4 linked regions of the Homo sapiens genome follow. The protein of the gene in region 2 purifies or fractionates together with the protein of the main gene of each other region. This does not show direct contact. Each region holds a gene or a part of one and is shown on either strand. Other genes may lie near its edges.

Region 1 (7,023 bases), on a different chromosome or scaffold from region 2:
CTTGAGATGTGCTATAAGTATAAAATACACATTGAGGCCAGGTGCAGTGGCTCATGCCTGTAATCTCAGCACTTTGTGAGGCTGAGGCGGGCAGATTGCTTGAGCCCAGGACTTTGAGACCAGCCTGGGCAACATAGTGAAACCCTGTCTCTACAAAAAATATAAAAATTAGTCAGCGTGGTGGCATGCGTCTGTAGCCCCAGCTGCTGGAAAGGCTGAGGCAGGAGAATCACTTGAGCCTGGGAGGCGGAGGTTGCAGTGAGCCAAGACCATGTCACTGCACTCCAGCCTAGATGACAGAGGGAGACCCTCTCTCCAAAAAAAAAAAACCAGACACATTGGAGTCCAGAAACTAGGCCGAGCATGGTGGCAGAAACTCTCCCAAAGAGTTAAAATATCTCATTAATAATTTTTTATTTATAACACTGAAATGAAAATATTTGGGATATATTAGGATGAATAAAATAGAATTTTTAAATTACATGTGTCTGTTTCTTTTTATTTGTTTGTTTTTGAGAGAAAAAGAGAGTTTCCCTCTGTCGCCCAGGCTGGAGTGCAGTTGCGCAATCTTGGCTCACTGCATCCTCCATCTCCTGCGTTCAAACAATTCTCCTGCCTCAGCCTCCCGAGTAGCTAGGATTGATTGTAGGTGCATACCACCACACCCGGCTATTTTTTGTATGTTTATTAGAGACGGAGTTTCACCATGTTGGGCAGGCTGGTCTCGAACTCCTGACCTCAAGTGATCCGCCTGCCTCGGCCTCTCAAAGTGCTGGGAGGTGGGCTTGAGCCACCATGCCCGGCCCTGATTCTTTTTTTGTTAATTTGGCTGCTAGAAAATTTAAACTTACATATGTGGCATATGTGGCTTAAATTGTATTCATGTTAAATAGCACTGTTTTGGGATGAGGGGTCACTTATACTGGAATTCCTTATTCTCTGTCACTTTTGACCATCAAGAATTCCAAAGTCAGTTTGTTAATCACACTTTCAGAAATAACCTGATTTGGTGAATTGTTTCTCTTATATCCCCAGCCTTCATAAATCTTATTAGATAGTTTGACTCCTGTTGAATTCAATGCACTATTGATACAGCCCTTAAAGCATTAAAAATAATTATTCAAGGTGATTGAGAGTTAAAACATTGTAGTTTCAAATTAGCTAGTGCCTGATTGCACCCCCCAATAGGGCAATTTCAGGAAGCCAGAGGAAAATACAATGAACACTATAGAGGTTCTGTTTCTAAGAACAGAAGTTCTTAGAAAGTTCTCAGGTTAATGGAAAAGAAAAACACAGGACAATTTATGAAAAATATCATTTCCAAAAGACAGAACACAAATGTGTACCAAATAATAACATGCTTCTTGAATTGTACAGATTTAATACACAAATACTAAGAAAATGCAAAGGAATCATTGAAAAGTAAGATACAAGATAAATTCTGGAAATTGCTTGCTTTTTTTTTTTTTTTTGAGACGGGAGTCTCGCTTTGTTGCCCAGGCTGGAATGCAGTGGCACAATCTCGGCTCATTGCAACCTCTGCCTCCTGGGTTCAAGCGATTCTCGTGTCTCAGCCTCTGTAGTAGCTGGGATTATAGACGCCTGCCACCACACCTAGCTAATTTTTTGTATTTTTTGTGGAGGCAGGATTTCACCATGTTGACCAGGCTGGTCTCGAAATCCTGACCTCACATGAGCCATTGTCCCCAGCTGGAAATTGCTTTTAAGCAGATATTAAAGGTGGGAATTATCATAAATTATGAAGAGTATGACTTTTTCAAAAAAGCATGAAGTGAGTCGTTGTTTTCTCTAAAGTAGTGCCTTTTCCCCCAAGTCCGGAAATATTAGGACATGTTATTTCATATAGGAAGCAAAGTCTGGAAAGTAGTAGGATGTAATATCTCTTTTCTTTGTTGAAACAGTCGAGGACAGGAAGGAAAAACCTGCAGAGAAGTCAGCTGTATCCACTTCTGTACCTACAAAGCCAACAGAAAATATCTCAAAGGCCTCTTCATGTACCCCAGTGCCTGTGACCATGACAGCAACTCCACCTCTTCCAAAGCCTGTGAATACTTCTCTTTCCCCTTCCCCAGCATTGGCTTTGCCAAACCTGGCTAATGTGGATCTGGCAAAGATCAGTTCCATCCTTAGCAGTTTAACATCAGTCATGAAAAATACTGGTAAGTAAGCCCAGTAAGGAGGATAAAAAGTTAATTTCCATCTTTTTAAATTGAATCATTAATCTGTTTTTGGGGGGGTTGTTGTTGTTGTTGTTGTTGTTGTTTAGACAGAGTTTCGCTCTGTCTCCCAGGCAGGAGTGCAGTGGTGCAATCTTGGCTCACTGCAACCTCTGCCTCCCGGGTTCAAGTGTTCTGCTGCTTCAGCCTCCCAAGTAGCTGGGATTACAGGCACCTGCTACCACGCCCGGCTAATTTTTGTATTTTTAGTAGAGATGGGGTTTCACCATGTTGGCCAGGCTGGTCTTGAACTTCTGACCTCAGGTGATACACCCACCTCGGCCTCCCAAAGTGCTGGGATTATAGGCGTGAGTCACCGTGCCCAGTCTGTTGTTGATTTTTTTTAATTAATGATTTTTTTTTTTTTTTCTGAGACGGAGTTTCAGTCATGTTACCTAGGCTGGAGTGCAATGGTGCAAACTTCACTCACTGCAGCCTCCATCTCCCAGGTTCAAGCAATTCTGCCTTAGCCTCCCAAATAGCTGGGACTACAGGCATGTGCCACCATGCCCAGCTAATTTTGTATTTTTGGTAGAGACGGGGTTTCACCATGTTGGTCAGGCTGGTCTCAAACTCCTGACCTCAGGTGATCCACCCATCTTGGCCTCCCAAAGTGCTGGGATTACAGGCGTGAGCCAGCGCACCCAGCTAAATTAATTGTTAAATTAAAAAATAATCCAATAATCGGTCATTATAGAAAAATTAGAAAATAAGCAAAGAGAATGAAATAAATATCTAGGCCAGGCGTGGTGGCTCATGCCTGTAATCCCAGCACTTTGGGAGGCTGAGATGGTAGATTGCCTGAGGCCAGGAGTTCGAGACCAGCCTTGGCAATATAGTGAGACCCTATCTCTAAATAAAAAATTTTAAATGAAAAAAATTTTTTAATAAATATCTATAATCCTGTTACCCCAAAGGAAACCACTTGTGTTTACCCTTAAAAGTATATGTGTATATGAATGTTTTGGAGAATTAAATATGTATAACAATTTTTAAAAAAGTAAGTGTATTGCATATACTGTTTCAAAACTAGCTATTTAAAAGTTAATTACATATCTTGAATGTTTTTATGAATCATTAAATATTTCTCTACATCATTTTTAATAGCTGCATAGCATGTGGTAACTTATCTAATCCTTTATTATTAGGCACTTAGTATGTTTCCAGTTTTTTACTGTTATGAAGAATACTATAGGGCCAGGTGTGGTGGCTCACGCCACCACTTTGGGAGGTGGAGGCAGGTTGATCACTTGAGGCCAGGAGTTGGAGACAAACCTGGACAACATGGCGAAACCCCATCTCTACTTAAAAAAACAAAAATTATGGCCGAGCGTGGTGGCTCACACCTGTAATCCCAGCACTTTGGGAGGCCGAGGCGGGTGGATCACGAGGTCAAGAGATCGAGACCATCCTGGCCAACATGGTAAAACCCCGTCTCTACTAAAAATACAAAAAAATAGCCAGGCATGGTGGCGGGCGCCTGTAGTCCCAGCTGCTCGGGAGGCTAAGGCAGGAGAATGGCCTGAACCCAGGAGGCGGAGCTTGCAGTGAGCCAGGATCGCGCCACTGCACAGCCTGGGCGACAGAGCAATACTCCGTCTCAAAAAAAAACAAAAAACAAAAATTAGGCCAGGTTTGGTGGCTCACGCCTGTATTTCCAGCACTTTGGGAGGCCAAGGCAGGCGGATCACCTGAAGTCAGGAGTTCAAGACCAGCCTGGCCAACTTGGTGAAACCCTGTCTACTAAAAATACAAAAATTAGCTGGGCATGGTGGCATGCATCTGTAGTCCCAGCTACTTGGGAGGCTGAGGCAGGACAATCACTTGAACCTGGGAGGCGGGGGTTGCAGTGAGCCAAGATCACGCCACTGCACTTCAGCCTGGGCAACAGAGCAAGACTCCGTCTCAAAAAAAGAAAAAATTCGCCAGCTGTGGTGGCACGTACCTGTAATCCCAGCTACTCATAAGGCTGAGGCATAAGTATCATTTGAACCCAGAAGGCAGAGGTTGCAGTGATCCAGGATCAAGCCACTGCACTCCAGCCTGGTTGACAGAGCGAGACTCTTGTCTCAAAAAAAAACAAAAAACAAAAAAAAAACCTGTAAATTATAAAAATTTTATGAATAACCCTTTGCAAGGGTTAAGTATATAAAACCTTTTTAATGGAATTTTATTTTTATTTATTTATTTATTTATTTTGAGACAGTCTCACTCTGTCCCCCAGGCTGCTGGAGTGCAGTGGCGCGATCTCAGCTCACTGCAAGCTCCGCCTCCCAGGTCACGCCATTCTCCTGCCTCAGCCTCCTGAGTAGCTGGGACTACAGGTGCCTGCCACCACGCCCAGCTAATTTTTTGTATTTTTGGTAGAGACGGGCTTTTACCATGTTAGCCAGGATGGTCTCGATCTCCTGACCTCGTGATCTGCTCGCGTTGGCCTCCCAAAGTGCTGGGATTACAGGCGTGAGCCACCGCATCCGGCCATTTATTTATTTATTTTGAGACAAGGTCCCACTCCATCACCCAGGCTGGAGTGCAGGGGTGCAGTCATGGCTCACTGTAACCTCAAACTTCTGGGTTCAAGTGATCCTCCCACCTGAGCCTTTGAGTGGCTGAGATCACACGTGTGCACCACCACATCTGGCTAAGTTTTGTGGGTTTTTTGGTAGAGACAGTGTCTTACTATGTTGCCCAGGCTGATCTTGAACTCCTGGGCTCAAGTGTTCCTCCCATCTTGGCCTCCTAAAATGTTGGGATTACAATCATGAGCCACTGCACCCAGCCCGAAATTTTTTAAATAAATTTTGCCAGGCAAGGTGGGATACCGTGTAGTCCCAGCTACTCGGGAGGCAAATGCAGGAGGATCACTTGAAGCCAGGAATTCCAGGACGTGTAGTTCACTGTGATCACGCCTGTGAATGTCCACTGCACTCCAGCCTGAGCAACCCAGTGAGACCATATCTCAAAAACTAAATAAAAATAAAGTATTTTAATATATAACTAAATTGATATCCAAAAAAGTGCTATTTTATATGACTAATATATGAAAGCTTCTGTTGTTCCTTACCTTCTCCAGTTACTTGCCTTGTGCAGTCTACAAATCCAGCCTTAAAAAGTTGTTTAATTTCCATTTCTTCTATGAAAGATGTTAAAAATTTTTTTCCTTTGCTTCTCACTTAAGTTTCTTTGTGAAATATCTGTTCATATTTATCTTTTTTAAAATAACAAATGTTTTTCTCTTTATATATTTTATTTCCTGTGTTAAAGATCAACCCAGTGTTTTTAAATGTAAAAATATAAAGGAAATTTCTTAAATAATCTCATTTTAAAAGCTATTTCAAAAGCATATAACTTACCAGTCACATGAAATTATGCAGTGGCTGAGTTATACAACTGCAGTGGCTCTCAGCATCCAGTCAGCCAGCAGTATTTATTGAGCGCCTACAGGGCTCTGAACTGTAGGTGCCATTTGGTGGAGAAAAAAGATTGTCCAGGTGTGGTGGTACATGCCTGTAATTCCCAGCACTTTGAAAAGCCAAGGTGGGAGGATCACTGGAGGTCAAGAGTTGAAGACCACCCTGGGCAATGTAGCAAGACCCTGTCTCTATTTTTTAAAAATAAATAAGAAATATTGGGGCTCTCAAAACTATGAAAATCACTTAATACTTGTTTTTTTCAAGACAGAGTCTCACTGTGTCTCAACTCTTGTCTCACTGCAACCTCCACCTCCTGGGTTCAAATGATTCTCCTGCCTCAGCCTCCCGAGTAGCTGGGATTACAGGCGCCTGCCACCATACCCGGCTAATTTTTTATTTTTGGTAGGGACAGGGTTTCCCCATGTTGGTCAGGCTGGTCTCGAACTCCTGACCTCAGGTGATCCGCCTGCCTCGGCCTCCCAAAGTGCTGGGATTACAGGTGTGAGCCACCTCGCCCGGCCAATACTTGTTTGTTTTAATGGTGTTCCAAGTAAAAGGAGATAATCTTTTCAGGGTTTTTTTTTTTTTTTTTGTACATGTCATGTTATGATGGACCATTTGTGGATCAACCACAGAAGAATTCCTGTTAAATATATCAAACTCATTGAAGTGAGGGGAAGTATCGGAAATTGAAGTCATTTTGAATTGCATTTTCTTGAGTTCATCTTTCTGCCACCAGGGGTCAGTCCTGCATCAAGACCTTCTCCAGGAACGCCCACCAGCCCCAGCAACCTCACCAGTGGCCTGAAAACACCTGCACCTGCCACGACAACATCTCACAACCCTCTGGCAAATATCCTCTCCAAGGTGGAGATCACCCCAGAGAGCATTCTGTCTGCACTTTCCAAAACCCAGACACAGTCAGCCCCTGCACTGCAAGGTAACTGACATATGCCAGAGGGACTCGAATTGTGAATGTTTGTCTCTGGCTTAAATTAATCCTGGATTCCATTTCTGATGAATCCAGAGCCATAAAATGTATAACACAGTTAATTCATTATTCTTTTTATTTATTTATTTATTTATTTATTTAAAATTTTTGAGATGGAGTCTCACTCTGTTGCCTAGTTGGTGTGCAGTGGAGTGCTCTCGGCTCACTACAACCTCTGCCTCCTGGTTCAAGTGATTCTTCTGCCTCAGCCTCCCTAGCAGCTGGGATTACAGGCCCACACCACCATGTCTGGCTAATTTTTGTATTTTTAGTAGAGATGGGGTTTCTCCATGTTGGCCAGGCTGGTCTCAAACTCCTGGCCTCCCAAAGTGCTGGGATTATAGGCATGAGCCACCATGCCTGGTGGTCATTATCCTTTTTT
Region 2 (7,606 bases):
GGTTACCCTTTGCTTTTTAGTCCTAGGGGCCTGGCTGCCAGACGGAGGTTTCTTCTCTGCAGGGCCTTGAAGGGTTTTGGTCTTGGTAGCAGTTTGTTTGGTCCTTTTCAATTTGCTTCTTATCTGAGTGCCGTTTGAGGCAGCCTTTTGTGTCTTCCTTTCTCCTGACACTTCCTTGATTCCATGTTTTTTCACCCTTTGGAAAAAGCTAGCGCAGAGTTCTTTAAAGTCCTCATCAGACTCATCCATCATCTGACCAGTTTTAAGGCTTTCAGGCTGGTCTTCAGAGGAGCGAGGGTCAATCCCAGGACAGGCAGACAGATGAGAAAGTGAACCCAAGTAGAAGCCTAGCTGAGCCTCATTCACACTCAGTTTCATTAGGGTTCTTCTCTACTTCTCCATTAGATACTTGGAGAGTTTGCACAATTGAACAAAAAGTACTGTTTTCCTCTCTATAATGATTGAAGTATCTTTGTTCAAATTGGGCCTGTGGTTAAACATGTTTAAAGCTTCCCTCTGTTAAAGTCCACAACTGGGCCGGGCGCGGTGGCTCACACTTGTAATCCCAGCTCTTTTGGAGGACGAGGCGGGGGGTGGATCACCTGAGGTCAGAAGTTCGAGACCAGCCTGGCCAATATGGTGAAACCTCGTTTCAACTGAAAATACAAAAAATTGGCCAGGCGTGGTAGCAGATGCCTGTAATCCCAGCTACTCGGGAGGCAGAGGCAAGAGAATCGCTTGAACCTGGGAGGCGGAGATTGCAGTGAGCCGAGATCGTGCCACTGCACTCTAACCTGGGCAACAAGAGCAAAACTCTGTCTCAAAAAATAATAATAATAAATAAATAAAGTTCACAACTGAAAGAGTGTTTTGTTGTCCAATAGATGCCTCTGAGATCGAATACATATGAACCTGGTGCTCAGATAATTCTCCAAGATCTCCATGATGATGAAACATATATGGTTCACTTAATTACACATCTGTGGAAAACCAAAAGCATGTAAGTGTAATCAGACATTGTCATTTTATGCCAGTTCTTCCAGGGAGGGACAAGGGCATGTGGGGTGAGGGAAAAGTCTTCGGAGTAACAATACTGTCAAATACTCAGTCCAGCCTGGTTAACATGGTCTAACCGTCCTATCAGACATCACAACAAAAGGACCTAGAAACCTGTCAAAGCATGTTGTTCTTCCACAGGTATTAAAATATGTGCATCTTGGGAGAGTGTTTTCTTAACTGAAATTTAGGGAGCAAACCCCATAAAAGGCAGTCACCACAGAAACAGGATGATCCCCAAATCTAGGAAAACTATCTCCTACACTGATCTAAGACCCCTGGCTGTTAAAGAGGCTCTTTCTGTAAATACTGCAACATAAGAGACAGAAAGAGACATTATATTCTCATGAACACTCAGGAGAGAAAAGGTCACTTTTACTTATCTTCTCAACCCAGCAAGGCTCTCCAAACCTGGATGACTGGAATGTCGCCTGTGTGCAAAGGCTGGGCCTCGTGAGCATGGTTGTTTACTTTGGCACACAGCTAAGTGGGGTTCAAAAATCAAAACTGAATGACCCAATGGCAGAAAGTTATTCCTTTCAAATACAATAATGCAATCTCCACTGTCCAAGGAATCTAATTAATCATTTTGTTTTCCAGAGCTGAAAATACTCCTACCTAGAATCTACTTTGTATGGCTGGCGCATTCTCTTCTGTGTCTTCCCCTTAGAGAAGTGTCCTCTAATCCTTTATGGACCGTCTCCATCCCCGTTAATCCCTATCATCGCCCACTGTTTTCACAATGGCATCTGTCATAGGTTATCATCATATGAAACAGGTAATATCTATCGAATGCTTACTGTGTGCCAAGCACTGTTCCAATTGCTTTCCAAGTCAAACTCGTTTAATCCTTACAAGAAGCCTATATGGTGGAATCTCTTGTCATCCTGTCTTTACGGCAAGGAAACACGCGCAAGCAGAATGAGGAACTGGCCTAAAGCCAGTTCAGGAACAGCTTTCACAGTGGCAGGGCTGGGATCAAACCCAGGAAGTGTGGTTCGAAACTATCCGCTCTTGTGTTTTTATTCATCGGCTTATTATCTGTCCCCCATTAAGCTCAACACTTCAGGAGGGTAGAGATCCATCTATTACTTTGCAACCTCTTTGGCTGATCTGGTGCCTGACTTGAAATAAGTGCTCCACAACTACTTGTTGAATTCATGAATTGCAAAGAGTTCGGTATAATGGGAGTAGAGAGAAAGGTGTAGGAGAAAACGCTGCGGGGAGAGGAAAGGATTGGCTCACAAGGGCCTGGAAGGTCAGGCTAGGCAAAGTGAATTTTATCCTGTTGGATGCGGGGAGCGGCTGGAACAAATTCCACCTCCACAACTGTGTTGATCTCCGCATCTCTGTTGATATGAACCTCACAACAGTCTATCTCCTCCTATAGGTGCCCAGTCAAGATTTACTGAATGACATAACGGATCCTGCAAGCCTGCAGGTTTCCAGAGGGAAGGGGACTTGTGCCTCCTTGCTTCGTACCTACCGCAGCCCACGGCTCACAGCAGGCGAGGGATGAATGAATGGATCGGTAAGGGGCGGACCCTCCCGCTTCCCCCAACCCGGCGACCTACGGAAAGGGGCTGAGGGGTTCCCCGTCTGGGAAAAGGGCTGCCAAAGACTCTAACGGCTCTAAAGTCAGACGGAGAACCCCGATCCCCGGACTGGCCCGGACGGAGACCACCGTGGGGATCCGGATCCGCCACCCTCCTCCCTCCAGGCGGGCCCCGGCCCCTCTCCACCCGAGTGCGGCTCCTGCCTCTCCGTCGGGGCTGCGGGCCTGCCGAGGCCACGGAGCCAGCGAGGGAGACGGGCGAGAAAGGCTCTTCTCCCTTAGGAAAGAGAGAACGGCCCGAAATGACAGGACCTCCGCCTCCCGGGTGCCGACTCCCAGCCCCACAGCCCGGCTCCTCCTACCTCCGGCGCCGCCGCGGCACCTTCTTAACGGAGACTCGCGCGCCTGCGCATGCGCCGCCCGCGCCCCCGCGGAGCATTGCCTGCGCGCAGGCGCAGAGCGGGCGCGCGCGGTGGTGCGGCAGCCTCGCTTCCGGTCTTCCTCTGCGGCGCCGGGCGCGGGCCCGCGGCGGCCAGCGCTTCCGGTCGGCAGGAGGCGGGGCGAGGCGGAAGCGGCGCTTGCTTCAGGTGGAGTCTGTTAGTTTTTGAGAAAGAGTTAGGGCGAGTTTAAGGCACTGTGGCAGCTGTGAGATAAAGTCTGGTTCCTCCCCAGCTGGCTCAGGAAATGTTCGCGGATACAACGGCGGCCCCCTCTGGGCATACCTGCCTGTGGAGCGGAGAGTGGACGGTGTGAGGGGGACCGGGAGAGGCACCAAATCTGGCCTGGGGGCCCGAGAAGCTTCCTCTCAGGTGGGGTGGCGTGAGAGTCGAGGCCTGGAGGTCGGGGAGGGTTAGCTACGTGAAGAGGGGATTCTGCCGCGCTTCAGGTGCCTGGAGGGGATGCCCGAGCTCTTCCGCAGGGCTAGGGTGAAGCCAGCCAGGGCCTGGGGGAAAGGTAGCAGAGGTTTGCCATGGCTTGGTATTTGAGGGACTTTACACATCGTATTAAGGGTTTGAGCTTCAACTTGGGGTCGTCGGGAGCCATTGAAGGTTTTTTGTTGTTTGTTTTTTGAGACGGGGTTTTGCTCTTGTTGCCCAGGCTGGGGTGCAGTGGCGCGATCTCGGCTCACTGCAACCTCTGTCTCCCGGGTTCGAGCGGTTCTTGTGCCTCACCTTCCCAAGTAGCTGGGATTACAGGCGCCAGTCACCACGCCCAGCTAATTTTTGTGTTTTTAGTAGAGACTAGGTTTCACTCTGTTGCCCAGGCTGGTCTCCAACTCCTGACCTCAGGTGATCCGCCCGCCTCGGCCTCCCAAAGTGGTGGGATTACAGGCGTGAGCCACCGCTCACGGCTTTTTTTTTTTTTTTTTTTAAGTAGAGACGGGCGGTGGGGGCGGGGGGGGGAGTCTCACTATGTTGCCCAGGCTGGTCTCGAGCCCTGGCCGCAAGAGATCCTCCCGCCTCGGCCTCCCAAAGCGCTGAGATTACAGGCGTGAGCCACCACGCCCGGCGTAAGATTTTGTTTTTAAAGGCCTAATTACAGTGAGAACAGATGAGGCAAGGACACCCATTAGGAGGCTATTACATAATCTAGATGAAAAGTGAGAGCGGCCCGAATTAGGAGGTGGAGCGAAAAGAATGGAGAAATATGGAGCATAGTCAAGACGCAGTTGTTAACGATTTGCCGGTTTCTGGCCTTAACATCTGAGAGTAGTGTGCCTCCAGTCACTGAAATAATGAACACAGGAGAGGTGTAAAGGAATCAGTTTGCAGGGCAGACAATATGTTTTTTAAAAGATACAGTATCATAAAATGCACACTAGAAGTGTACATTCAGTGGTTTCCAGTACGTTCACAGGATTTGCAGCCATCGTCGCTAATTCCAGAACGTTTTAAAACCCCAAATCGAACCTGCCGTACCCATTCGTAGTCACTCCGCAATTCCCCCGACCCCATCCCCTGGCAATCACTTATCGGCTTTCTGTCTCTGTGGTTTTGCGTATTCAGTACATTTTATGTAAATGGGATCATGTGATACTTGGCTTTTTCTGCTGGGCTTTTATTAAGCATGTTTTCAAGATTTCATCCATGTAGATGAATCAGTACTGCATGCCTTTTCATGGCTGCATAATCACGTGTTTGGATGGACCATGTTTTGTTTATCCATGTATCAGGTGATGGGCATATGGATGTTTTTACTTTTTGGCTGTTAGAAATAATGCTGCTATGAACATTCGTGTTCATAACACAAGTTTTTGTGTTCTAGGAGTGGAATTACTGGGTAAGACTACATTTGATTCTGAATGTTGAGCTTCAAAACCTTCCAAGAGGTTTTCCTTGATGAAGGATTTAGGAGGTGTTTACTTGCTCTCTGGCTTGGAAATCTAAGTTAGTTTGTAATATGGTTTCCAACTGGATAAAGAAGACAGAACAAGAATGATAAGCAGCCCAGAGGCAAGGGTAGGGCAGGGTGTCTTGGGACTTGAATTTATAGAGGAGACTGAGTGACGACATGGAGAGGCCAGTGCTGTTGAAATAATTTCTCTTTCCTTCCTTCCCTTCCTTGCTTCGTTTTCGACGGAGTTTGGCTCTTGTTGCCCAGGCTGGAGCGCAGTGGTGTGTGCAACCTCCACTTCCCTGGTTCAAGCGATTCTCCTGCCTCAGCCTCCGGAGTAGCTGGGATTACAGGCGCCCGCAACCGCGCCTGGCTAATTTTTTTTTTTTTTTTTTTTTTTGGACAAAATCTCGCTCTGTTGCCCAGGCTGGAATGCAGTGGTGTGATCTCGGCTCACTGCAAGCTCTGCTTCCCGGGTTCACGCCATTCTCCTGCCGCAGTCTCCCGAATACCTGGGACTACAGGCGCCCGCCACCACACCTGGCTAATTTTTTGTATTTTTAGTAGAGACGGGGTTTCACCATATTAGCCAGGATGGTCTCGATTTCCTGACCTCGTGATCTGCCCGCCTTGGCCTCCCAGAGTGCTGGGATTACAGGTGTGAGCCACCGCGCCCGGCGTAATTTTTTGTATTTCTAGTAGAGACGGGGTTTCACCATGTTGGCCAGGCTGGTCTCAAACTCCTGACATCAGGCGGGCGATCTTCCTGCCTGGACCTCCCAAAGGGCTGGGATTACTGGTGTGAGCCACCGCGCCTGGCCTGAAATAATTTACTTACATTTCTCAAGAAAAGGAGGCGTGCCACCACGTTCAGAGCCACAAGGGAGACATCAGCTTTTGGTTAGGAGGAAGAAATAGGAACAAGGAGAAAGTCTAGGCCAGAACCTTTATGGGGTTCCTCAGAAATAGCAAGTCAGGGCGGAGTAAACATTTTAGGATTGGATAATTTAAATAATTCCATCACGCTTTGCCTTTGGGTGGTCTCTAGTTGCTTGGTACCTGGCCATGGATGATTTAGGGCAGGAGAAATACTGGCTTGGTGTGTGAGAGTTAGATAAAGGGGGGAGGCTGACTTGCCTGTGAGAGGCATGCTCCCAAGTAAGTTGTTTACTGTCTTGAGGAATTAGACCTGGGAGAGGCAGTCTCCCTGCCAGCAAGATTTATTAAGATTTCAAAATATCATAGGATACAGAAAATTTTTTTAAACATCTAATAAACATGGACATGGCTGGGTTATGAAGGATAATTGTAATGGTAGAAATTACTGTTTTCCAGTCAGACTGAAAATGAAGTGCCTGTTTCCTATTTAGGATTTAAATCTCTTAGAGTCCTGGTGAAGAAAGTCTTTGCTACCTCTCTCCCCCAACCCCAAATCTGGCTATATTATTTATTTACATAAAATAAATTAGTTGAAGTGTGGTTTAGAAAAGAGAGTTTTCTTAAACCTGAGATTCTCAACTGAATCACCTGTGGAATTTTTTTTTTTTAATTGGAAAGGCTGGGACACTACTCTTAGGCCTACTGAATAAATCTTTCAACCTGTGTCTTTTGAAAGTTTCACAGATGATTCTGATGGTCTCAAGATTGAGAAGCACTGCATTTAACCAGCACCAACTGAACAAACACTGTAGGCTAAGTATAAGAGAGATGGCAAGAGCTGGGTCAGGGTGGTGCATGGGATTTCCAATTATACATAATTCCTCCCTTCAATGAACAAAGCCATCCATAACTGGGGCACCTGCTTCTTTGGGCTAAAGGTGAACAATGGCAGCCACCTTGTCCTGGACCCTATTGTGACTGTTACTCCAGCAGAAGCCCTGGGGTTCATGCTGTTAGTTAGAAGTCACCCAGTATGACTAAGTTGAGGGGCAGTGTTCAGAAACAGTGTTACTAGATGGATGTTATTTCAGTAGGAACAGTATTGTGTGTTCCCTGTCAGCATTTGAGGCGGAAACCCACTGCACTGTCAGAACAACCAGGGAGATGAAAGAAGATGTCAGATACTAAAAGGTGCAGACAGTCCTTGTGTTTGGTAAACCTTACAGGGTTTATCTGAAAGAGAAAATGGATGCAGAAGTACATGAAAAAACTGTGTTATTCCAAATAGATGTGCTGTTTTCCCAGTTCATAGGAGTCGGTAATTTTTGGGTTCAGGGCAAAAAGGCAAAGGTTGAAGATGCTGTGATGATCACGTCCTTACCCTCCTGGAATATTTCCTTTTTGAAAGCTTCTGGCATCTTCCACTGAGTTCATGTTTTAAACAGTTGGGAGGATGAATTGAAGGGCCCTTATCCCAGGTCTGTGGTTTGATTATAAATGGTAAAGCCATAACCTGTCCACCTCCCTCTCCTTTATCTTGACAGGGGTTGGGGAGACAGCAGATTGAACAAGGAAAGAATTGTCTCCTGAGTTCTTTGATCATGTTAACTTTTATTTACTGTTGTATAGTCACATTTTCTAGACTGCTAAAATTGGTGAAATCAGGACAGGAAATAACTGTTTTTACGTGTATAAGTATACAAAAGTTATTCGAGATGAGTTACACTGCATTTCTTTCAGTGTGCTGCCTGCCACTGCTGCCTTTGTGTGATTTTGCTCTAT
Region 3 (7,023 bases), on a different chromosome or scaffold from region 2:
ACATTCTTTGCGGATTATAAAGTACTATGCAACTTATGAGTACATTGGAATTCTTTTGGTTTGGCAAGACCAGGATTGAAAGGCTAATTATGTTACAGTAGGCTTTTTTTGTTTGTTTGTTTGTTTTTGTTTTTGTTTTTTGGAGACAGAGTCTTGTTCTGTTGCCCAGGCTTTAGTGCAGTGGCACAAGCTCAGCCCACTGCAACTTCTGCTTCCTTGGTTCAAGTGATTCTTGTGCCTTAGCCTCCTGAGTAGCTGGGATTACAGATGTATATACACACCCGGCTGATTTTTTTATTTTTAGTAGAGAAAGGGTTTCTCGATGTTGGCCAGGCTGGGCTGGTCTTGAACTCCTGCACTCAAGTGATCCTCCCACCTCAGCCTCCCAAAATATTGGGCTTATAGATGTAAGCAGTAAGGCAGTTTTCAGTGAAAGGGGCTTTTGAAGTTTATTTCTTTTCTTTTCTTTTTTTTTTTCTTTTGTTATAGGGTCTCACTCTGTCGCCCAGGCTGGAGTGCAGTGACGTGATCTCAGCTCACTGCAACCTCCGCCTCCTGGGTTCAAGCAATTCTCTTGCCTCAGCCTCCCTAGAGACTGGGACTGCAGGTGCCCGCCACTGCACCCGACTAATTTTTGTATTTTTAGTAGAGACGGGGTTTCACCATGTTGGCCAGGCTGGTCTCGAACTCCTGACCTCAGGTGATCCACCCCCGCTCGGCCTCCTCTGAAGTGCTGGCATTACAGGCGTGAGCCACTGTGCCTGGCCTGAAGTTTATTTCTTTTGATAGCTTGCATTGTTTGATTTGCTTTTGTGTGTGAGTGTTTAATGTATAGTATCTCTGAGAAATTATATAGTCATCTTTATTTTTTTCTTGTAATGATTTGCTGATTTCTCTACAGTGGTCATCAACTTTGGTAAAGAATTGGTGAATGTTACAAAATGTAATTTTGTAAGACTGGTGGTCTTTTCCTTCTTAACTCATTTAAACTTTTCTCTTTTTTGTAGCTTGGCTGCAGAATTGTTGGTCCTCAAGTAGTCATATTTTGTATGCACCACCAGCGATGTGTCCCAAGAGCCGAACATCCAGTTTATAATATGGTTATGTCTGATGTAACCATATCTTGTACAAGTCTGGAAAAAGAAAAAAGGGTAGATATTGATCTCATGATGATTGATCAATTTATATATCTATCTCTTATTCTTAATTTTTCACTGCATAGAAGATAGCTTAAAAGACTTTCCGCTTATTGTTCGTGACTTTTAACAAAGTTCAGTATACAACCACAGTGTGTATATATGTATACATGTACATTTTTTAAGTAAATTGAATATAGTAGAATTTGTTTTGTTGAAAACTGGCTAATTGAAATTTTTTGTTTTAATTTAAAAGGACACTCATTTTTTAATCACTTACATTTTTCCACTATAGGTGGACAGTCTTTAAAAAAAAGGATTCTAAATCGTTTGAATCAGGGAGGTGGAGGTTGCAGTGAGCCAACATCACGCCACTGCACTGCAGCCTGGGTGACAGAGCAAGATTTCGTTTTGGAAAAAAAAAAAAAAAAGCATTCTAAGAGAGAGCTATAGAAATACATATATATATTTGGGACAGGGTCTTACTGTCACCCACGCTGGAGTGCAGTGGCACAATCACAACTCACTGCAACCTTGATTTCCTGGGCTCAAGTAATCTTCATGCCTCAGCCTCCCGAGTAGCTGGAATTACAGGCATGCACCACCAAGCCTGGCTAAAAATAAATATTTATATATTATATAGATATAATTTATGTTGTTAAAAATACACATGTATATTTATATAGAAGCAAAGATTAAGATTTATACATCCTTTGTATAATAGTTTAATACATTCATGGAGTTGAAAGGGATAAATATAGGAAAATAATATTTTAAAAATATAATTCATACTTATCTCCCAAAAAATAATTTGGTTAATTATTTAACTTTATAATGTTATGTAACACTTATGTATTCAAACTGTCAACAGCAAAATGTATTTATGAGATAGTGTATAAAAGTGGAAGCAATATTGTTTGCTTCAGCATTAATGTGTTCTCTTTTGGGGCTGCAGGAAGAAGTTCATAAATATGTACAAATGATGGGCGGACGAGTATACAGAGACCTTAATGTATCAGTAACTCACCTTATTGCAGGAGAAGTTGGTAGCAAAAAATATTTAGTTGCTGCAAACCTGAAGAAACCTATTTTGCTTCCCTCTTGGATAAAAACACTTTGGGAGAAGTCACAAGAGAAGTAAGAAAGACATTTTTATATTTTCTAGATTTGAAAAAATGATGCATTCAATCATTTTTGGCATGTGATATACTCTTTGGACTTACTATTCAGGGAAAAAAATAGTGTCATTACTCTTTTCTCCAGCGAAAACGGAAGAGCAGAATCTACAAGCTCTTATTACCAAGATATAAGTTGACAGGCATAGAATGGGCCAAGGGTTTAGCATTAGCTACAGAGTAGGAAATGCTTTGGTGATAAAGTTCTCAGCTGTAAATATTTCTGAAATAATTGAGAAAACGAGTTTGGCAATTCTGTAGCTTTTATGTTGCATTATCCTTCAACACCATTCCCATATGTTAAGATAGATAATAAATTAGTCATTTTGGCAGTTGCATTCCTTCCAAAAGATGGCATATGTAAGGTTGAATATAAACATATGCAAGTCATCAGCTGAGATGTGATCATTTAATAAATGCTAATTGAGCCCATTTTACGTATCTGACTTGAGGTAGGCATTAGGTATATGTAGTAAGCAAAACAAGATAGTCACTTCCCTCATGGAGCTTAGAGCCTATTTCAAGGGGCACACTTCAGTTTCCCCTGCAACTAGATAAACAACCACAAGACCAAACACCACAGAATTGTATTGGCATACGAATTATATCGGCACTTTTCTGGGCTTGTTTTCAACACCATCCAGCATATCCCAAATATGTCTCCATGTCAGCAACTCTCATTCCCAATGTGATTACTTCATCAGCACACCTCCCTAGCATGGCAACAGAATAATGATATTTTTGTTGGTATTTTGCCAAAAATCATTGCTTTTACTTGTATAGAATAATGGAAAGATTAAAAAGTTCATTTATCTAATAGGCAACCAAATTACCTTTGGGTTTTTAAGTAGAGATTCAGACTTATCATTTTGGAAAATATACTATGACCAGCAAGGGCTAGAGTTAAGGAAATATATATTTTTCCCTTAAAATGGTTTTGAGAGACTGTATCTGAAACAATTACTTTGTTTTAGAGACATGTTATTGAACTAGGTGAACAATTAGTGTAATTCTGTTTTGGTGGTTCTCCTTTGTAAAAAAAAGATTATAAATCCTAAAAAATGAGGGAAGCAATAGTGATATTTGTGTTGTTTTTCATTATTCTTCTGGTAAATTTAATATGTTCTTTTTTAACCATTTGATTCCCACAGAAAAATAACTAGATATACTGATATAAACATGGAAGATTTCAAGTGTCCTATTTTTCTTGGTTGCATAATCTGTGTGACTGGCTTATGTGGCTTAGACAGGAAAGAAGTTCAGCAACTCACAGTTAAGCATGGAGGTCAATACATGGGACAATTGAAAATGAATGAATGTACACACCTCATTGTGCAAGAACCAAAAGGTAAAACTGTGTTTCACAAAGGGACAAATGAAACATTTTCTCTAGTATTTAATATTTTATTTTTATTTATTTATTTATTTATTTTGAGACAGAGTCTTGCTCTATTGCCCAGGCTGGAGGGCAGTGGCACAATCTCAGCTCACTGCAACCTCTGCCTCCCTTGATCAAGCGATTCTCCCAACTCAGCTTCCCGAGTAGCGGGATTACAGGCACCTGCCACCACGCCTGAATAACTTTTTATTTTTAGTAGAGACGGGCTTTCACCATGTTGGCCAGACTGGTCTCTAACTGACCTCAATTGATCTTCCCACCTCAACCTCCCAAAGTCCTGGGATTACAGGCATGAGCCACCGTGCCCAGCCACTAATATTTAATATTTTAAAATCTTTACAGAACAGCTTTTACTTCTGACATGTCATTAATCTAGTTTGATACTGTTTTCTCTAACATCTTGCAAAGATGTTTTCTCTAACATCTTGCAAAGTTTTAACTGGAAGACACACCTTGCGGCACATGAGGCAGTAAAAAATGAAAAAGACATTACGAACAAGAAAAATTCTTTAAAATTGCTATTAAGTTTGGTGTTACATAACATTATTCTGGATAATTTTTTATCAGCACTCTTAAAATATACACAAATTGATAAAAGATGAGTTTTGTTAATGTTTTTATTATTGCCCTTTATATGTATACTGTGTTTTACTAAGCTATCTAGATTGAGAAGAAATTACGATTAAATGGTAATTGTCCTTAAGTCAGAACTTTGAGTATGGCTGATTGTGATAGGATCACTGTGAGTAGAGTTGATACTGCTGTTCTTTTTCTGAATCTGAAGACAGTTCATTGTTGATTCTCTCAAGAATGCCAAAAAACCTTTCATGTGACATATTGACCTCAATTCCTCTGTGATACTGCTTCAAAATACATTGTGTTGAAGATTTTTAAGGTAATAAAAGATACATATTTTCAATATAATTTATCTTTTGGCTTATCTATCCTGGACTTTAAGTAGAAGCCTGTTGACATTGGAATAGTCTGTTCAAAGTTGGGATTTATTATATAGCACAAATTTACAATTTTCACATTGTACAAGCTGGTTTAAAGAAATTAAGTGATGGAGCCTATATGCAAACCCAAGTCCAATATTAATTAAGTTACCCCACAGTTGCTTCTGTCTTCCTGCAGTTTGTATAAAAGATAAAACCTCTCACATGGCATATGTATTTATACTACACATAGAAAATATAATTAGGCAATAAGCTAAAATACTACTTTGTAATAAACTGTGTAGCATACTGTTTAAGAGTAAGTACTGGTAACTTTAATTTTGTTGATAGGTTTTTGAAATAACCTGTTATAGCCGGGCGCGGTTGCTCACGCTTGTAATCCCAGCATTTTGGGAGGCCAAGGCAGGCGAATCACCTGAGGTCAGGAGTTTGAGACCAGCCTAGCCAACATGGTGAAACCCCGTGTCTACTAAAAATACAAAAAAATTAGCCAGACATGGTGGCACACGTCTGTAATCCTAGCTATTCAGGAGGCTGAGGCAGGAGAATCGCTTGATCAGGAGGGAGGTGGAGGTTGCAGTGAGCCAAGATCTCACCACTGTACTCCAGCCTGGGCAACAGAGTGAGACTCCATCTCAAAAAAAAAAAAAAAATATTAACCTGTTATAATTTGAATATTTCTGCAAAGATAGATTGTAATGGTTTTCATTTCTTGGTTTCTCCTATTTTCTCTATTTCTTTCTTAATGAACGCCACAGGTCAGAAGTATGAGTGTGCCAAGAGATGGAATGTACACTGTGTGACCACACAGTGGTTTTTTGACAGTATTGAGAAAGGTTTTTGTCAGGATGAATCCATATACAAGACAGAACCTAGACCAGAAGCAAAGACTATGCCCAATTCTTCAACTCCTACCAGCCAGATCAACACAATTGATAGTGAGTCTCATTGAGATTAAAATAATTATTCTGAAGACAGTCATATTTCTATGTAATAATCAGTATGTTAATAGGATCACTGAGATAGGGAATTTCTTTTTCTTGTTTGCTGTGCTTCTAGGCATAATTGTATAATAGTCAAATTGTATAAAAAGTTAGCACTGAACTGTTCGTAATTTTCTTTTAGAATGAATGAATGCTGTCTTTTATACTCTGTTGTAATGCAAAAGATGATCAAAGAAATTAAGAACAATGGTAGCTGGGGGCTTAAGATAAAAGTATTAATCTTTTAAACATTACATGCATATATTAATCTTTCCTTAATTTACAGTTTTGCTGCAGTTATAGATCATCTGTATTTGTATAAAAATTAAAACCATTTCTATTTTGTAGGTGTCGTGTTGGCAAAATGTTTAAAATATTTTTTCAAATGTAAGCTTCTTGGACCTTAAAGTCAGCAACTTCAGATTTTTATGGGAAACAAGACACTATTAAGAAAATGTGTTAAATCTATTTTCATTTAAATAAGATAGGAGGCTTAATTAATTTCATTTTCCCTTTTTATACTTTGCCACTAAGATTTCAGTAAACACCCCTGAATCTTACTTTGGAAGTTGTTTATTGCCCTATATTTGTAAGAAAAGTTAATCCATAGACAATATGTAATCATGATTATTTTATCTCCCATAAATTTATACGTTTTCAAAATATGTAGGTCGTACTCTTTCAGATGTCAGCAATATTTCCAACATAAATGCAAGTTGCGTAAGTGAATCAATATGTAATTCACTTAACAGCAAACTGGAGCCTACACTTGAAAATCTAGAAAATCTGGATGTCAGTGCATTTCAAGCACCTGAAGATTTATTAGATGGTTGTCGGGTACGTCTTTATTATATAATACATGCAGTAGATGATATACATTAGCATTTCCTAGCCTGACTTTGAAGACCCTTCAGAGTTGGGCTTGCTCCTTACTATCTATGTAAACCCTCCACTCTAGCTAAGTAGATGCACTTACTAGACCATGTCCATCCTTTGGCTGCGAGAGTCCCTCTGCCTGCAAGGTATCTTCCTCTGTTATCTTTTAAAAGTTCATTTCAGGTTTTAACTCTTCTCTGAACCCTCCTAACTACATTAATCTTTTCATCTGCTATATTTCGAGAGCACTTAGTTTCTGAACAACTTATTGGATTTTTTTTTTTTAATTTTTTTGAGTTAGGGTCTCACTCTGTTGCCCAGGCTGGGATGCAGTGGCACAATCATAACTTCCTGTAACCTTGAACTCCTGGGCATCAGCCACCCCTCAGTCTCCCGAGCAGTTAGAACTACAGGCATGTGCCACTACACCTGGCTAATTTTTAAAATTTTTTTGTAGAGACAAGGTCTCACTATGTTGCCCAGGTTTGGACTTTAAAC
Region 4 (7,632 bases), on a different chromosome or scaffold from region 2:
ACCCCGTCTCTACAAAAACATTAAAAAATTAGCCGGGCAAGGTGGTCCACAGCTGTAGTCCCGGCTACTCAGGAGGCTGAGGTGGGAGAATTGCTTGAGCCTAGGAGGGAGCCATGATCTTGCCACTGCACTGCACTGCACTCCAGCCTGGGCAACAGAGCGAGACCCTGTCTCAACAGCAACAAAAAAAGTTCAACGCGGCAGAGCTGGGAATAGCAAAAGTCGAACCTGCTGGTATTTACTCGCTGAGACAGTGGCGGAAAAGGAAGCTGTGGAAGGGCACGGTGGTGACTCAAGGGCTCCGTTTGGGCCACGCCGACCTGGGGGCCTGTCATAAACCAGGCCAAGACTCAAATTGGCAGGTATGGGGGAGTCAGGCTGAGCCAGAGAAAATATTTGGGAGCTATAGGCACAGAGACAGGAAGCCGTAAACTGCATGAGACCTCCAGGAAGAAGCTGGAGATTTCACCAGATGAGGCTCTGGAACTTTCAAGTGTGGACAGGTGAGACTCAAGAAGAAACATGCTGTCTTCTAGCACCTTCCTGTAGTTGCTCATGCCTTCTGTCTGTATAAGTCTTTCCCAACCCACAAGGCCCAATTCACTTCTCCCCAGACATGACAAGCAAATACAGAACACCTGCTTAAAAGAGAAAGGCTGGGCTCAGCTCCCGGTTCTACTTCAAGTTCTTTTTTTTCTTTTTTGAGACAGAGTTTCACTCTATCACCCAGGCTGGAGTGCAGTGGCACGATCTGGGCTCACTGCAGCCTCCACCTCCTGGGCTCAAGTGATTGTCCTGCCTCAGCCTCCCAAGTAGCTAGGACTACAGGTGCATGCCACCATGCCTGGCTAATTTTTTTGTATTTTTAGTAAATACAGAGTGTCACCGTGTTGGTCAGGCTGGTCTCGAACTCCTGACCTCAAGTGATCCGCCCACCTCAGCCTCTCAAAATGCTGGGATTACAGGTGTGAGCCACCGCACCCAGCCTACTTCAAGTTCTTTAACGGCAGAGTAAATCTGTTTCCTTAAAAAGACCTAAGAAATTCAGAATATTGATTCAGAATTTCTGATTTTTCAGAATTCTGATTTTTAAAAAAGAATATAACAGGCTGGGCATGGTGGCTCATGCCTGTAATCCCAGCACTTTGGGAGGCCGAGGTGGGAGGATCACCTAAGGTTGGGAGTTCAAGACCAGCCTGACCGACATGGAGAAACCCCGTCTCTACTAAAAATACAAAATTAGCTGGGCATAATGGCGCGTGCCTGTAATCCCAGCTACTCGGGAGGCTGAGGCAGGAGAATTGCTTGAACCCGGGAGGCGGAGGTTGCAGTGAGCCGAGATTGCACCATTGCACTCCAGCCTGGGCAACAAGAGCGAAACTCCGTCTCAAGGAAAAAGAAAAAAGAAAAGAAGGAAAAAGAATGTAACTCCAGTCTAATCATGAGAAAACCTTCAGAGAAGTCTCAATTGAGGGACCTTCTACCAAACCCCTGACCAGGACGCCTCAAACACTCATGATCATCAAAACAAGTCTGAGAAATTGTCACAGCCAAAACATGCCTACGGAGGCATGAAGACTACTTGTCATGTGGGACCCTAGAACAGAACAGCAGGTAAAAGCTGAGGAAATCTCAATGAAACATGAACCTTAGTTAACAGTAATGTATTATAAACTAATATAATAACTATAATTAATCTATATTATTTTGGCTCATTAATTTTGATATATACACCATGCTTAGTGTATGATGCTAATAATAGAGGAAATAAGGTTAACAAAAGATAAAAATCTAATATAAAGTACCTAACGCAACCACAGTAGTATAATTCTGTGCCCCCTTTCTCAAAGTACTGAGTATAATGAGGAGTTAGGACTGGGAAAACCATCCTTGCCGCTAGAGCAGTCCTGGCCGACAGAAACAGAATGCCAGCAACATGTGAAATTATACATTTTCTAATAGCAACATTAAAAAGAAACAGGTGAATTTCGATCATACTTTTAATTCAATATGCTAAAAATACTATTTCAACACATAACTAATGTTAAAAACCTGCACTACTTTTTTTTTTTTTCCTTTGAGACAGGCTCTGTTGCTCAGGCTGGAGTGAAGTGGCGGGATCTCGGCTCACACTGTGCAGCCTGGGACCCCTGGACTCAAGGGATCCTCCTACCTCAGCCTCCCGAGTAGCTGGGACCACAGGCGCGCGCCACCTCGCTCGGCCAATTTTTTTTGTATTTTTTGTAGAGATGGGGGTCTCACTATGTTGCCCAGGCTGGTTTCAAATTTCTCAAGCGATCCTCCGGCCTCAGCCTCCCAAACGCTGGGATTACAGGCCTGAGCTACCGCACCCGGCCCTGCTTGCGTTAAGTTTAAATTGACGTAAACTAAGCATTCCCTTCAGGAATCACACGAGCCATATTTCAAACGCTCAATAACCGCACGCAGCTCGCGGGCGCGCTCCTGCAAACGCCCCTGAAGGAGGCCCGGCTTCCACCTCAGCCTCGCCCCGGCCCGCGCTCCGGCGATGGCACCCAGGGCGGACTCGCAGGGGCGGGGAGAAGGGCGAGGACGCGACGGAGCTCGGCCACAGAAGCCGGCGGGAAGGGTCAGCCGCCCCCGGAACCCTCCGCGCAGAGCGGCCCCGGAAAGCGGCTCCTCCGCTGGGGAAAGCAGACGGCGACCCCAGATCCCGACCCGATCGCAACCTTAAACCTGGTCCCGATCTCGATCCCAACGGTAACACCTGCCCTGACCCCCATCCCGACCCCGGCCCCAAACAGCCCCGCGCGCACCTGTCCCAGTTGGGGTCCCAGACACCGGGGCCCGGCCGCGCGCCCCCCGCCCAGGCCGGCGGCTCAGCCGGGCGTGGCTCCGCGTCCCCGCCTGCGCGCGGCTTCCCTACCGCCACGGCCGAGAAGAGCACGGCGGCCGAGCCCCCGGCCAGCCCGCAGGCCGCCAGCTGCAGCGCCTGCCGGAACGCCATGCCGCTTGCTCCCGCGCCGGCCCGCGCAGGCGCCCACGGCCCCGACGGCGCTCCGCGAGGAACACGCTTCCCCCGGCTGCCGCTTCCGGGCGGCGGGGGCGGAAGTCCCGCCTCCTGGGGCGCGGCAGGACGCGGGGCAGCCTTGCGCGAAGGGGCGTTTTCGTGGAGCCACCTGCCGCGCCACGCTCCAGTCCCGTCACTTGTGCTCGCGAGCGCCGGTGCGCGCAGGTGCGGGCGGGGTTGTGGGGACGCCGGGAGGGCGGCGCGGTACTTTCCAGAAGGTTCCGCACCGGAAGCGCCTGCCGAGGCCGGAGGCTGGGTGCAGGGGCGGAGACGCGGAGAACTTGGGATCCTGGTTTAAGGGAGCTGGGAAGCTGCCGCAGGTTTGTTTAAACGATATTTTTTTGGTGGCGGAACACGAAGTAAAGTTTTCCGTCGGCGCAGTTCCTGCGTGTGCTGTTCAAGCGGCCTGAAGTGCGTTCAGGTTCGGCCGGGCTGTCCCTCCTCCTGGTCCCGACCCCTCAAACCCCGGGCCGAACACCGCCCTCTCCTGCGGGACAGTCTTTCTATGGCCGGCGCGTTTCGCCTAGCAGGGTCCTCAGAGGGACCGCGTTAGAGCCTGGGTTTCCTTCCAGGGGGACCAGCGCTCCCTGGGTGGACCGACCCCACCGCTTACCCATTGCTGGACGCCTGCGTGCACCGACCCCACCGCTTACCCATTGCTGGACGCTTGCCCTGTTGCCATCTCCTCGCTAGCGTGAACAGTGCTGCGTGCAGATCTCTCTTTCATTGATTGTTTTGCGTCTGTACCCAGAAGTGGGATTGCTGGACCATCTCTGCCCATTTTAAAATTGGGAAATGACATGATCTGATTTAAGCTATTTAAAAATCACTTGGGCCTGGGCTCGGTGGCTCACGCGTGTAATCACAACACTTTGGGAAGCCGAGACAGGCGGATCACCTGAGGTCAGAAGTTTGAGACCAGCCTGGCCAACATGGTGAAACCCGGTCTCTACTAAAAATACAAAAATTAGCCGGGCACGGTGGCTCCAGCCTGTAATACCAGCTACTCAGGAGGCTGAGGCAGGAGAGTTGCTTGAACCCAGGAAGCGGAGGTTGCAGTGAGCTGAGATTGCCTCACTGCACTCCAGCCTGGGCAACAGAGTGAAACAATGTCTCAAAAAAATAAAAATAAAAAAACTGAATGGTTCCACAGAAATACTGAGACTTCTGCTTAAACAGGCTTTCTTGAACCTGTACGCTTCCAGTTGGGTCTGCTGCTTCCAGGTCATTTACTAAAAATGATAGGAAGATTTAAAAAATAAAAATAAAAGGAAGGCCGGGCGTGGTGGCTCACGCCTGTAATCCCAGCACTTTGGGAGGCCTAGGTGAGCGGATCACGAGGTCAGGAGCTCGAGACCATCCTGGCTAACACGGTGAAAACCCGTCTCTACTAATAATACAAAAAAAAAAAAAAAAAATAGGGCATGGTGGCGGGTGCTTGTAGTCCCAGCTACTAGGGAGGCTGAGGCAGGAGAATGCCGTGAACCCGGGAGGCGGAGCTTGCAGTGAGCCGAGATCGCGCCACTGCACTCCAGACTGGGCGACAGAGCGAGACTCTGTCTCAAAAAAATAAAGGAAAATTGGGCCGGGCGCAGTGCCTCACGCCTGTAATCCCAGCACTTTGGGAGGCTGAGGTGGGCGGATCACGAGGTTAGGAGATCAAGACCAGCCTGACCAACATGGTGAAACCCCGTCTTTACTGAAATACAAAAAAGCCTGGCGTGGTGGTGCGCGCCTGTAGTCCCTGCTACTCGAGAGCCTAAGGCCGGATAATCGCTTGAACCTGGGAGGCAGAGGTTGCAGTGAGCCAGGATGGTGCCACTGCACTCCAGCCTGGGTGACAGAGACTCTGTCTCAAAAAAAAGAAAATCAGCCAGGCTCAGTGGCTCATGCCTGTAATCCCAGCACTTTGGGAGGCCGAGGCGGGCAGATCACCTGAGATCAGGAGTTTGAGACCAGCCTGGCCAACATGGTGAAACCCCATCTCTACTAAAAATACAAAAATTAGCTGGTACATACCTGTAATCCCAGCTACCCAGGAGGCTGAGGCAGGAGAATCGCTGGAATCCAGGAGGCAGAAGCTGCAGTGAGCTGAGATCACACTACTGCACTCCAGCCTGGGTGACAGAGCAAGACTCCATCTCAAAAAATAAAATAAAAAACAAGGGAAAATCCACAAGGACATAGTTGAATCCATAAGAAGAAATGACAGCAGATAAATCAGTTAACAAAAGTTCAAGAGCTGGAGATCAGATCTTTATCGACCTGAGAATATGGAACACCAGTGCCTATGTGGAAGGAAACCAGGAAGCAAGTTCATTTAATCCAGTGAGTCTGGAAGAGTCTGGGAGTTGGCAGCATTAGCCTCCTGTCTGAGAGCTGTGGGGCTGAAAGCAGGAGCATTTAGAGGAAAAGGTTGCCTTCCACATTTCGTTTCTCCCCCACATGTTCAGGGGAATAGCTCACTTTCATCACCGTGGAGCACTAGAGAAAGGCCATTCCAGGGGACTTGAACAGGAGGGTTCTGGATTTCAGGACACCAAGCATAGCTCAGATTGGGGATGCAGTAATAAAGATGGGATTATACAGAGTTCACATAAGGAAGAGTAGGACCTCTAACCCCTTTCCTCCAGATAGCCACAAGAATGTTGGCCACTAGGCTCATTCCCTGCTCAGCTACCACCACCATCCTTCCCCCAATGCCCTGACAAGAACTAAAGGATTCCTCTGTGTGGAAACTGACCAGCCCAGGAGAAAATATTTTTTTTTAATGTATTTTTTACGCCGGGCGCAGTGGCTCATGCTCGATAATCCCAGCACTTTGAGAGGCCGAGACAGGCGGATGGATCACTTGAGGTCAGGAGTTCGAGACCAGCCTGGCCAACATGGTGAAACCCCATCTCTACTAAAAATACAAAAAATTAGCAGGGCATAGTGGCACGCGCTGGTAATCCCAGCTACTCAGGAGGCTGAGCCAGGAGAATCACTTGGAAACGGGAGGCTGCAGTGAGCTGAGATCATGCCACCGCACTCCAGCCTGGGCAACAGAGTGAGACTCTGTCTCAAAAAAAAAAAAAAAAAAAAAGCCTGTTTTCTGATGACTGTTAAGTGTGTGAAACTAAAAACTCCTGGTCTCTGCTCTCCCCTGTGTGCCTGACAGCACTCCGTAAAGGTGTGTTCAGCGAACTGACCGGATGCGGGCTGTGGTAAGCCATATACATGATGTGAAATCTTCTCCAGCAAATTCTCTTGACCTTGCCGTGACACTCTGATGCCCTATGATGAGGTGGTGAAGATGGTGGCTCAAGACCTGGCTGACTGCCTCTGAATCAGGACTGTCTCTTGCTAGCTGAGGCATCTTGCATCCCCCACATGTGGAGTAGAGAAAACAATGGCACCTCCCTCAGGGCTGCTGCAGCTCTCAGAAGAGTTCCGGCACAAAGCAGCCCTAAGCGGTGTCAGTACTGTCATCTCTGGATTCTAATCTAGAATCTGTTCTGAGATCCAGGTTCTTAATCCTCCATCATGGCAGGGGGTGGGACTCACTGGGAAGTGGCAAGTTAGAGGGATAGTCAGAATTGTCACCTTCTGCATCAATTGCAGGAGCATCTGTTACTTTTGCAAATGCCCTAAACTTCCTTTGGGAACGACCCCACCTTAAATATTCTGAACTGAAAGAGCAGTTCTTTGAAAACCCAAGGCAAGCAGGACTTGAGCAGGCATTAGTGCCGCTGTCTTCACCGCCACATCCTTCACGGCATCCAGGAGCTGGAAACAGTCTAGCCACTGACGGACAGACGGACAGGCAAAATGCAGTCCACGCACACGGCAATGTTCAGCCTTTTAAGTTTTTAATTTTTATTTTATTATTTCTTAGTAGAGAGGGGGTTTCATCATGTTGGCCAGGCTGGTTTCAAACTCCTGACCTCAAGTAATCCGCCTGCCTCGGCCTCAAAAAGTGCTAGGATTACAGGCGTGAGCCGCTGCACCCAGCCCTATTTTTATTTTTTATTTTATTTATTTATTTTTTTGAGACAGAGTCTCACTCTGTTGCCCAGGCTGGGGTGCAGTGGCACGATCTTGGCTCACTGCAACCTCTGCCTTCCCAGTTCAAGTGATTTTCCTGCCTCAGCCTCCCAAGTAGCTGGGATTACAGGCATGCATCACCACACCCAGCTAATTTTTTTTTTTTTTTTTAAGACGGAGTCTTTCTCTGTCGCCAGGCTGGAATGCAGTGGAGCGATCTTGGCTCACTGCAACCTCTGCCTCCCAGGTTCAAGCGGTTCTCCTGCCTCAGCCTCCCGAGTAGCTGTGATTACAGGCACGTGCCACCACGCCCTGCTAATTTTTTTTTTTTTTTTTTTGAGACGGAGTCTCACTCTGTTGCCCAGCCTGGAGTGCAGTGGCACGATCTCGGCTCACTGCAAGCTCTGCCTCCCAGGTTCACGCCATTCTACCGCCTCAGCCTCCCAAGTAGCTGGGACTACAGGCGCCCGCCACCACGCCCGGCTAATTTTTTGTATTTTTTTTAGTAGAGACAGGGTTTCACCATGTTAGCCAGGATGGTCTCGATCTCCTGACCT

The links.
Region 1: the proteins of SLX4 (region 2) and RPRD2 purify together in Homo sapiens (affinity purification with mass spectrometry, with the first as the bait; 2 studies listed by BioGRID). This does not show direct contact.
Region 3: the proteins of SLX4 (region 2) and TOPBP1 purify together in Homo sapiens (affinity purification with mass spectrometry; 3 studies listed by BioGRID, with this or other methods). This does not show direct contact.
Region 4: the proteins of SLX4 (region 2) and PGAM5 purify together in Homo sapiens (affinity purification with mass spectrometry; 4 studies listed by BioGRID and IntAct, with this or other methods). This does not show direct contact.

What each region holds. Positions count from the first base shown.
Region 1 is NC_000001.11:150,458,138-150,465,160, forward strand, and holds part of RPRD2 (regulation of nuclear pre-mRNA domain-containing protein 2), read left to right. Parts: intron 1-1,922; coding exon 1,923-2,180; intron 2,181-6,389; coding exon 6,390-6,590; intron 6,591-7,023.
Region 2 is NC_000016.10:3,608,587-3,616,192, forward strand, and holds the start of SLX4 (structure-specific endonuclease subunit SLX4), read right to left. Parts: upstream 3,021-7,606; 5' UTR 2,974-3,020; exon of another isoform or gene 2,543-2,973; intron 981-2,542; 5' UTR 379-980; coding exon 1-378. UniProt on the Homo sapiens protein: Regulatory subunit that interacts with and increases the activity of different structure-specific endonucleases.
Region 3 is NC_000003.12:133,651,926-133,658,948, reverse strand, and holds part of TOPBP1 (DNA topoisomerase 2-binding protein 1), read left to right. Parts: intron 1-1,007; coding exon 1,008-1,151; intron 1,152-2,091; coding exon 2,092-2,273; intron 2,274-3,462; coding exon 3,463-3,659; intron 3,660-5,424; coding exon 5,425-5,604; intron 5,605-6,319; coding exon 6,320-6,486; intron 6,487-7,023. UniProt on the Homo sapiens protein: Scaffold protein that acts as a key protein-protein adapter in DNA replication and DNA repair. Composed of multiple BRCT domains, which specifically recognize and bind phosphorylated proteins, bringing proteins together into functional combinations.
Region 4 is NC_000012.12:132,706,231-132,713,862, reverse strand, and holds the start of PGAM5 (serine/threonine-protein phosphatase PGAM5, mitochondrial), read right to left. Parts: upstream 3,022-7,632; 5' UTR 2,987-3,021; coding exon 2,796-2,986; intron 1-2,795. UniProt on the Homo sapiens protein: Mitochondrial serine/threonine phosphatase that dephosphorylates various substrates and thus plays a role in different biological processes including cellular senescence or mitophagy. Modulates cellular senescence by regulating mitochondrial dynamics.